Regions from separate parts of the Homo sapiens genome. Here region 1 is linked to region 2. The links come from fine-mapping of genetic effects on gene expression. A gene starts in region 2. The other region holds a variant in brackets. All regions are shown on one strand. Distances are between the middles of the regions. Region 1 overlaps EHMT1 (euchromatic histone lysine methyltransferase 1). Region 2 holds the start of EHMT1 (euchromatic histone lysine methyltransferase 1).

Evidence for each region. PIP is the estimated chance that this variant, and not a neighbour inherited with it, causes the effect.
Region 1: its variant is the best candidate, but not a certain one, in a credible set for the expression of EHMT1 in whole blood (INTERVAL, PIP 0.56).

The regions. Positions count from the first base shown.
Region 1 is chr9:137,638,094-137,643,282 of GRCh38, reverse strand. All of the region lies in intron 1 of EHMT1 (euchromatic histone lysine methyltransferase 1), which reads right to left. It also overlaps the pseudogene SETP5. Among named protein-coding and RNA genes, the nearest start is that of EHMT1, 22 kb to the right of the region's middle. The variant C/T (reference allele first, on the strand shown) is at 3,151.
Region 2 is chr9:137,616,447-137,621,635 of GRCh38, reverse strand. EHMT1 (euchromatic histone lysine methyltransferase 1) reads right to left here and starts at 2,631. Exons shown (of 27, transcript NM_024757.5): 1 at 2,587-2,631. The coding sequence starts at 2,607. ARRDC1-AS1 (ARRDC1 antisense RNA 1) reads left to right here and starts at 2,741. Exons shown (of 3, transcript NR_122035.1): 1 at 2,741-3,105; 2 at 3,445-3,702. RefSeq lists enhancers at 1,505-2,223, 2,889-2,938 and a silencer at 2,549-2,848.

The DNA of each region.
Region 1 (5,189 bases), 22 kb before region 2:
AAAAGTAGAGAGTTCATCACTGAAAGACCTAAGAGTCCTTCAGGATAAATGAAAGGACACTAGACAGTAACTCAAGCCCACATGAATAGAGAGCACCAAGGCCAGGCACGGTGGCTCATGCCTGCAACCGCAACACCTTGGAAGACTCAAGTAGGAGGGATCTTCTAAGACCAGGAGTTGGAGACCAGCCTGGGCAACACAGTGAGACCCCATCTCTACAAAAAAAAAATTAAAAATCAGCAGGGAATAGTGGCACGCACCCATAGTCCCAACTACTCGGGAGGCTGAGGCAGGAGGATCTCTTTAGCCCAGGAGGTCAAGGCTGCAGTGCTATGATTGTGCCACTGTACTCCCACCTGGGTGACAGAGCGAGACCCTGTCAAGAGGGGAGGGGAGGGGAATGCAATCAAGAGCGCCAGTAAAAGCAGCTACACAGGTAAAGTATAAAAGCAGCTACATAAGACAGTATAAATGTATTTGTTAATTTATAATTTGTTTTTTCTCCTATATGATTTGAAAGACAATTGCGTAAAGCAGCAACTATAAATCTGCGTAGATGGGCACACAGTGTAATGTAATTTGTATGACAATAACAGTACAAGAAGGGCAAAAGAAATTAAGCTATGCCCAAATAAATATTTCATATAGTATTGTAATATAGTATTAATACAAACTACATTATCAAAAATTAATATACTAAATTGTAATCCCCAGGACAACCAAGAAAACAAATAAAAAATACAGTCAAATAAACAGCAAGGGAATTAAAATGGTATACACTAGAAAATATCTAACACAAAAGAAGAAAGCAATGAGTCAGGCGTTGTGGTACGCCTGCAGTCCCAGCTACTCAGGAGGCTGAGGTGGGAGGATCCTGTGAGCCCGGGAGTTCAAGGCCACGGTGCACTATGATCATGCCTATGAATACTCACTGCGCTCCAGCCTGGGCAACATAGTGAAACTCCATCTCCATGAAGAACAAAAACTAACTGAGGCAGAAAGTAACAAAAAAGACAGAAGACGCAGAAAGCAAATACAAAATCGACAAGTATAAACCCTACCTTTCAGTAATTACATTAGATGAAACGCATTACCTGTCCCACATGAAAAGTAGAGACTGGGGGAATAGATTAAAAAATTTGGGGCCGGGCGCAGTGGCTCACACCTGTAATCCCAGCACTTTGGGAGGCCGAGGCGGGTGGATCACCTGAGGTCAGGAGTTCAGGACCAGCTTGGCCAACTTGACGAAACTCCGTCTCTACTAAAAATACAAAAATTAGCCAGGCATGGTGGTGGGTGCCTGTAGTCCCAGCTACTCAGGAGGCTGAGGCAGGAGAACAGCTTGAACCATGGAGTTGGAGGGCATGGGGGCAGAGGTTGCCATGAGCCAAGGTCATGCCACTGTACTCCAGCCTGGGTGACAGAGCGAGACTCCATGTCAAAAAAAAAAAAAATGTGATCTTAGTCCTATGAGCTTCTTCCTGATGAGCAAGGAGGCCCTTGGGTCCAGACTCTCCTCCCGGAATGACCCCCAAACACCCGTCTCTGCCCCTGCCTGAAAGGAAGACATGGCGCCAGCCCCTGACAGAGGCCAGAGGAAGAGAGGAACAGAACAAGCGGCAACCAAGCCCACGAGGAAGCACAGCACAAAACAGGCTTCAGAAACAGGCTTAGCAAGTGAGCGGCAAGCGGACTGGGAGAGCGAACATAGACAAATTCGGCCAACCACGTTCTTCAGGGCAGATGAGAATTGATTCCCAAAATCCCCAATTTCTGGGTAATAACATTTGTCAGCCATCCACAAGCGTCTGCACTGCTTGGGAGGAGGATGAAGAGGCACTGCATTGTTTGACCAGTGCTGAAGTGACAGAATTTGAAGATATTAAATCAGGTTACAGAATAGGTTTTTATTTTGACGAAAATCCTTACTTCAAAAATAAAGCTCTCTCAAAGAATTTCATCTGAATGAGAGTCATGATCCATCTTCAAAGTCCACGGAAATCAAATGGAAATCTGGAAAGGAAACTCTTCAAGTCAAATGCAGAATAAAGCCAGTAGGAAGAGGCATCCTGAGGAACCAGACAGGTTCTTCACCTGGTTTACTGGCCATTCTGACGCAGGTGCAGATGAGTTAGGAGAGGTCAGCAAAGACCATACTTGGCCAAATTCATCACAGTGCTCCTTGGTTCCCAATATGGATGATAAAGAAGGAGAAGACGAAGATGATGAGGAGGAGGAACTGGAAGACACTGATGAGGAACGGGATAAGGAGAAGATAACTAATAGAACACACATGGATTAGAACCTTCCTTTTTTAAAGCTGTCTCCAGTTCCCGGGAGCAAGGTGCAGTCTTGCTTTTTCCCTCTTGTGCTCACCCAGTTCTTGAGGTCTCTTTTGTCTACACCGTGGATCTCAACTTATCTGGGGGGGAAATACCTTGAGGAGAATAAAATGTGAAAAGAATCTCTACCTCTTTCTGTTTCAAACTCATTTTTATCCCTTCCTATCTCAACAAACTTGTATGGAATCAACATCACCATGTTCTATGGAAAAAAGAACAACTTTCTGCCCCCTTTGCACTGTTGGAAGCTAAAGGGCGCCAGGCCCCTATAATGCAGAGAATTCTAGCATTTTTTCCTTCTCTGCATATTGGGCTCAGAGAAAACATGTATCTACTTGCTCTTGATTAAAAAAAGAAAATTTCAGACCAGGCACAGGGGTGCACACCTGTAATCCTAGCACTTTGGGAGACCAAGATGGGAGGATCACTTGAGGCCAGGAGTTCAAAACCAGCCTGAGCAACATAGGAAGACCCCATCTTTACAAAAAATTTAAAAATTAGCTGGACATAGTGGCAGATGCCAGTGGTCCCAGCTGATCAGGAAGCCAAGGTGGGAGGACTGCTTGAGCCCAGGGTCAAGGCTGCAGTGAGCTATGATCACGCCACTGCACTCCAGCCAGGGTAACAGCAAGACCAGGTCTCTAAAACACACAAAAATAAAACAAAACAAAAATTAAAATTAAAAGCTTTAAAAAATAAGGTTACAGGCCAGGCACGGTGGCTCACACCCGTAATCCCAGCACTTTGGGAGGCCGAGGCAGGCGGATCACCTGAGTTCAGGAGTTCAAGAACAGCCTGGCCAACACAG[C/T]GAAACCCCATCTCTACTAAAAATATAAAACTTAGCCGGGCACAGTGGCACATGCCTGTAATCCTAGCTACTCGGGAGGCAGAGGCAGGACAATCACTCGAACCCGGGAGGCAGAGGTTACGGTGAGCCAAGATCGCGCCATTGCACTCCAGCCTGGGCAACAAGAGCGAGACTCCGTCTCTAAATAAATAAGGTTACAGAAGGCCAGCAAAGGGTGGGTCTCAAATGTCTGGTGGGTTGAGTGGGCATTCTGATATCACAGCTCCTCCTCTGGCTGATTAATGGGGAGGTACAACAGACATCCTTGCAGTCTAAGGTGACACTTTAAAAATAAAATCTCTTCTATCAGGTAAGAAAAATACATATATATGATTCAACTGCTGAATCTACAAGATCCGATCTCAGATGGAAAGGACTGTAAGAGACATCCCTTCGATTGAAGATACAAAGAGATTAAAAGGCCAGAAAAAGATATAGTATGCAAAAATAAACCATAAAAAAACTGAAGTGGCTATACTGACATCAGACAAAATAGACTTTAAAACAAAAACATTTATAGAGACAAAGAGGGACATTTCATAATGAGAGAAGTGTCAAAACACCCAGGCAGATGTAACAACTATAAACACACGCAAGATAACATAGTCTCAAAACACGAGGCAAAAACCAACAGAACTGAAAGTGAAAATGTAAAATTCGACAGTACTGTAGATCTCATACTCTACTCTCAATAACTAATAGAACTAGAAAGAAAATGAGAAAGAATAAGGAAGACTTAATACTATCAACCAATTCAATCTGACATATAGGGAACATTCCACCTAATAAATTCATAATGCACATTATTTTCAAGCACTGATGAAACATTCCCCAGGACAGAATATAATACGGGATTTTTTTTTTAATCTAACAAATTAAACACACTGAAACTATACAAAGTATAATTCTGACCATACAGGAATTACATTAGAAATCAACAAAACAAAGAAATCCAGGAAATACCTAAATATTTAGAAATTAAATGACACACTTCTAAAGTCACAAGGGAAAATAGAAAATATTCTGAACTGAATAAAAATGAAAATACAACATATCAACATTTATAGGAAGCAGCCTGTTTTTTCCTAGGACACATGTAACAATAGAAATGTATGGTCTCGAAGTTCTGAAGGCTGGAAGTCCACAATGAAGGTGTCAGTAGGCCTTGTGGTCTGTAATGGCTTTGGAGTGCCATCCCCTGCCTCGGCCAGGCTCTGGGGTCTGCTGGCCGTCCCTGACACTCCTTGGCTTATGGAAGCATCACCCCAGTCATGCGCCACTTCTCCCTGTGTGTCCGCATGCTGTCTTCCTTCTGTGCATGTCTGTGTTCACAAGGCATCCTTTTTTTTTTATGAGGACACGTAAGTCATACTGGATTAGAGGCCTACCCTACTCAACTATGATTTCATCTTAACTAATCTGCAATGACCCTATTTCCAAATAAGGTCAAATTCTGAAGTATGGGGTTTAGGACTTCAACATATTTTTTAGGGGAATGCAATTTATTCTATAACATAGCTAAAAGCATTAAGAAACTAGTAAAAAACTAGGCCGGGTGCAGTGGCTCATGCCTGCAATCCCAACACTTTGGGAGGCCAAGGCGGGTGGATCATTTGAAGTCAGGAGTTTGAGACCACCTCGGCCAACATGGTGAGACATCATCTCTACTAAAAATACAAAAATTAGCCGGGCGTGGTGGCGGGTGCCTGTAATCTCAGCTACTTGGGAGGCTGAGGTGGGTGGATCACCTGAGGTCAGGAGCGCGAGACCAGCACAGCCAACATGGTGAAACTCCGTCTCCTAAAAATGCAAAAAATTAGCTGGGCATGGTGGCGCACGCCTATATTCCCAACTATTCAGGAGGCAGAGGCAGGAGAATTGCTTGAACCCAGGAGGCGGAGCTTGCAGTGAGCCGAGATCGCACCACTGCACTCCAGCCTGGGCAAAAGGGCGAGACTCCATCTTAAAAAAAAAAAAAAGTTGCTTCTCTGAAAAATTCA
Region 2 (5,189 bases):
GTTTTTTTTCTTTTTTTTTTCCTGAGACAGTCTCTCACTCCGTTGCCCAGGCTGCAATTACAGGCACACACCACTATGCCCAGATAATTTTTGTATTTTCAGTAGAGACAGGGTTTCAACCATGTTGGCCAGACTGGTCTCGAACTCCTGACCTCAAGTGATCCGCCCACCTCGGCTTCCTAAACTGCTAGGATTACAGGCATGAGCCACCACGGCTGGCCAGTTCTTTTTGGTAGGAAAATGTATTGACTATCTTTGTAAATCAAGGAAAAGAAATGAAGTTAGATAAGTTTCCAGTGTCAGCTTTATTACTTTAATCATTTGGCAATTAATGAACCCTGACCCAGGAATCATTTCCCAGGTTTAGTGACAACAGTGATCACATGCCTACCTACTGTCCAGAAGGCCAGAGTTGCTGCGCTACACACAGGGGCTCCCTCACCTTCTCATACACCTTGATGATAAACCCTTAGAATTATCAATCTAAAAACAGAGCTTTTATTAACCTAAAATGACCATCACAGATATAACACATTTAGCAAGCATCAGCTCTATGGCCAAACCACCTGCAACTCCATCTTCTTGGCCACAAGCTCTTCAATCTTGGGCCTCACTGCGCCTGTCTTCTCATTTATAAACGGGGAGGTAACAGTACCTACCTCTTAAGGTTGCTGCTAGGCTCAAATTATTGAATTCATGCAAGGCACTGGCACTATGGCAGGGTTGGACACAAGTCAGGGCTCAGTCAACACAGGCTGTCATTCTCATCAGGTGTGTAAAGCCCTATTCAAGGCTGCCTATGGAACCAGAGACATCTGGAGCCATTTGCTCATCGGTCATGTATTAAACACCTACTACGTGCCCAACACTGTACTAGTGCTGGTCCTACAACCGACTGGCCAAGTTATCTAACCCTTCCTCCTCAGCTAAACAGGAAACAACAGGACGGGCACAATGGCTCATGTCTGTAATCCTAGCACTTAGGGAGGCGGAGGCAGGCAGATCGCTGGAGTCCAAAAGTTCAAGACCAGCCTGGGCAACATGGTGAAACCCCGGTCTCTACCAAAAAAATACAAAAAAATTGGCCAGGTGTGGCAGCACCCGAGGTGGGAGACTCCTTTGAGCCTGGGTGGTCGAAGCTGCAGTGAGCAGTGATCATGCCTCTGCATTCCAGCCTGAGTGACAAAGGGAGATCCTGTCTCAAAAAATAATAATAATAAATAATAATTTAAAAAAGGAAATAACAGCACCTGCTGCACAGGGTGAAGAAAACCGAGGGAGGCGCCTGATCTAAAGGTCTTGCACAGTGTGTGGGATCCAGTGGGTACTTCATAAATGATAGAATTCATCACTACACGTCTTCTCCCCTACAAGCCTAGAAGTGACTTGAAATTTTCTAATTTCGCTTTTTGTTCTCAGTGACTAATATTAATTCCTTGAATGCTGCAGATACTCAGCAAAAACTCCTTGCATTGAATTTAAGAATTCCCCTGCACCTTCCCAGTTTACTTATTTCAACACCCCCCAAAAATGCAGGAAAAAAATAAACAAAAAGGCCATACATTACCTGAGTTAAAATACAGTGTTAAGTCTATGCACCAGGATACTGTACGGCTTCTTACTACACCTTAACTTTCTAAGCTTTAGAAGTCTCAACTGTTACTAGACAGTTAATTTCAAAGAAATACTTCTACGCTGACAGTTTTCTCCAAACCGGTCCCTTATCTCAGCCCTAGGACCACACTATTTCTGCATCTCCACGGACACACCACCTCCTGCTTGCTTTTCCTTCAGAGGGACGCCAGTGGTCCACTCGCAAGACTTTAATCTCTACGCTGCTTCCTTTCCTAAGCAAGGAAACAAACTATCCTTGAGAATGAGCACGGGGAAGGCCGAGACCATTAACAAAAGAATGTGAACTTTTTACATCGAGAGCCCTTTAAAGCTGCTGGTTTGGAAATAAACTTGAGTCCGCAAGCTTCCCACCGAGCGTGCTTTCCTGCTTCTGACAGCCAGCAGGGCTGGAGCAGCATTGTCTGGGGAGAAACACGCCGGGACTGGCCAACTTTTCGTTAAAGATGGTGCCATCCTACTCAGAACAAAGTGAAAGGTCAACGAAGCGAAGGAAGAGCTCCGAGAGGAGGGACAGCCTCGCCTCGGCCGGCGCTCCAAAGTTGGCCGGCCCCGCTACTTTTCCTTTTGTCCTCCGCACCTCCCCGGCACCCTGGCCGAGGCCCTCCCCGCAGATCCGGCTTGCGGGCGGCGGCGGCGGCACGGGGTCCGTGGGGGGCGCGGGCACAGGTACGCGGTCGCCTCCCTCACCTGCGCCCCCGCCCGCTCCCCCAGCCGCCGCCCGGCCCGCGCCGCGCACAAAGCGCGCCCGGCGGGAGCGCGGGCCGGACGCCCGGCGGCCTCGGCCCGGCCTCGGCCTGAGGCGGCGGCAGCGGCGGCGGCGGCGGCGGGGGGACCCGGGGCCCCGCCCGCCCGCCGGCCGCCTGCCGCCGCCCCGCCCGGTTCTTCGCCCCCGCGCCGCCTCCGCCGCTGCCCGCCGCCCCCGCGCCGCCCCCCGCCGGCCCCGCTGCTCACCTCGGCATCGGCGGCGGCCATGGCCCGGGCCCGCAGCGTGGCCCCGCCCCTCCCGCGCGCCATCGCCCCGCCCGCGCCTCGCGGCCCAGAGTCGGGGCGGGGCCGATCGCCTACGTCTGCGCCTGCGCCTGCGCCCGCGCCTGCGCGTTGGAGCTCGACCGGTGCGGCGCCTGCGCACTGGAACCAGGCGTGCGGCGCCCCAGGCGCCGGGCCTGCGGCGGCCGGAACCGGAACGCGCGCCCGCGGGGTAGGAGACCTGGAGCTGGAGAACCCGCCCGCCAGAGTCGTAGTAGTGGATGGGGAGTAGCCGTCCCATTTTCAACACATGTCTCATTCTAAATTGACGTTTTGGTGGGCTGGCCGAAGAAGGAGAAAGACCCGCGGCTCCGACCTCTGACCTCTAACCCCGGACGCACTTTGATTTCGCCGGCTTGCGCGGAAGGCTGACTCCCTGGGCCGCGGCCTGGCGCGGGAGCCGCCTGTGGGGTGTCCCCGGCGCGGGAGGGTGCTCTGGTTCAGGCAGGTTCCCGTTGCGGCGGGGTTCCCTCGGTTGGGAGGAATGCCCCTGCCGAGGGTATGCTCCGGCTGGAGGGGGTGTCCCTAACGGCGGGAATACCTGGACTGGCTGGGGTGTCCCACTGGGGAGGGTTTCCCGGTGGGGAGGTGTCTGGCGGGGGAGCGGCTCCGGCTAAGCATGGGTGTTCTGCTAGGAGGATGTGTCTGGCTGGGGGCGGTGTCCCAATCGGGAGGGTTGCCCTGATGGGGGAGGTTCTACAGTTGTGGAGATGCCAACCTGGGGGGCGCTCCGGTTGGGGGGTGTGCCCTCTCTGGTTACCCCGCTCTCGCTGCCACTCATAGGCCCGCTGCCCAGGTATGCACAAGTCAAGGCCTTTTCTGCAGACCAAGTAGCCTTCCCTGGAGAGCGCCCCCAGCACCACGGAAACTACCTACATGCCCCGCGGTGGTCAGCCCGCCTTATCCCAGCCCCGAGACCCAAAACAAGAAGCATGGACTGAATTTGAGGTTTCTGGATGGTCGTGTGAACCGAGGGGACGGGTACTGGACTGACAAGAAATGAGCCTTGAAGGTCAATCTGGGTGACACCCGAGTCTCCTGGTGAGTCGGACTCCGGAGAATTATCTCAAGTCCAGCATAGACAGCGCACATAGACAGAAAAGGAAACGGACAATCCCAAGTGCCAAGGGAACCTTCCCAGGTTTCTTTAGGGCAGCTAAACTGCTCTGTCAAAGCCTAAGTCCATTTATGACAGGCCGAGCACCCTGAGCCCTCGCAGGAGACACGAGCGCCTTCATGGCCCTCCTGCCCCGCACCCACCTCTCCGCCACCCCTGCTGTCTGTCCCTTCCCTGAAACCTTTATTTCGAGTGTCTTTGTGGCTTCCCTCTTTACCATCCTTGAGTTGAAATATCACCTCTTAAGGGAAGCCTTCCCTCTCCTCCCTAGTTAAAATGATACTGCCCCCCCATACCTGTCTTCGTTGACTTACTTGGCTCCATCACAGTGTGTGTCATGTGACTCTCCCACATCCTGATTTGGAATATTGTCTCCCTACTAGAATGTAAGTCCATGGTGCCTAGAACAATACCTGGTGTACAGGAGACAAAATATTTGTTGACTGGGCCGGGTGCGGTGGCTCACGCCTGTAATCCCAGCACTTTGGGAGGCCGAGGTGGGCAGATCATGAGGTCAGGAGATGGAGACCAGCCTGGCTAACATGGTGAAACCCCATCTCTACTAAAAATACAAAAAATAGCCGGGAGTGGTGCTGGGCGCCTGTAGTCCCAGCTACTCGGGAGGCTGAGGCAGGAGAATGGCATGAACCCGGGAGGCAGAGCTTGCAATGAGCTGAGATTGTGCCACTGCACTCCAGCCTGGGCAACAGAGCAAGACTCTGTCTCAACAACAACAACAAAAAAATTGTTGACTGAATAAAGGGAGTTAGAATGTGAAGAAAAATCCTTCACCAAGCAAACATCCACCCTAAGTGAAGGTGTGGGAAGCAGCTGCAGGCAGCTTTTTCACTCCATTTTTCCATCAGCTGCTACCCTTGTGTGCCCCTCAGCACTTATGTCAAGATGCTGCTCTCAGCACGTGACATGCTAACACTGCAGACTTCAGGTCAGTCCTGAGAGGCAGGCACTGTTCTTACCCACATTTTATAAGTGACTGAACTGAAGCAAGGGAGTGGTGAGAGGCAGTGATGGGATTCAGCCCAGGAGGCCTTCCTTTCAACCATATACTGCACTGCTTCCAGGAGGCGCTTCACAGATGACCCCACCTGTGGTACACTTTCTGCTGTTCTCCAATATTCATGCTGCCTGTCCCACAATTAGTAAAATTTTAGCCAAGTACAGGACTGCCTGGCTAAAGACCACATTTCCAACAGGAAGGGGACAGGTCAGAGACAAAAAGTGACAATCCATTTCCCAGTCTGTCCCTCAAAAGTCCCACCATTAGGCTGGGCAGTGGTGAAAGCTGTCAACAGCCATCTGGGAGCCAGGGATGGGAACCACTATGTAGGAATGACAACTCTGCCACAAGGCCAGGATCTGCCCCCTCTGGACTGTTCAAGAAATAAACTGT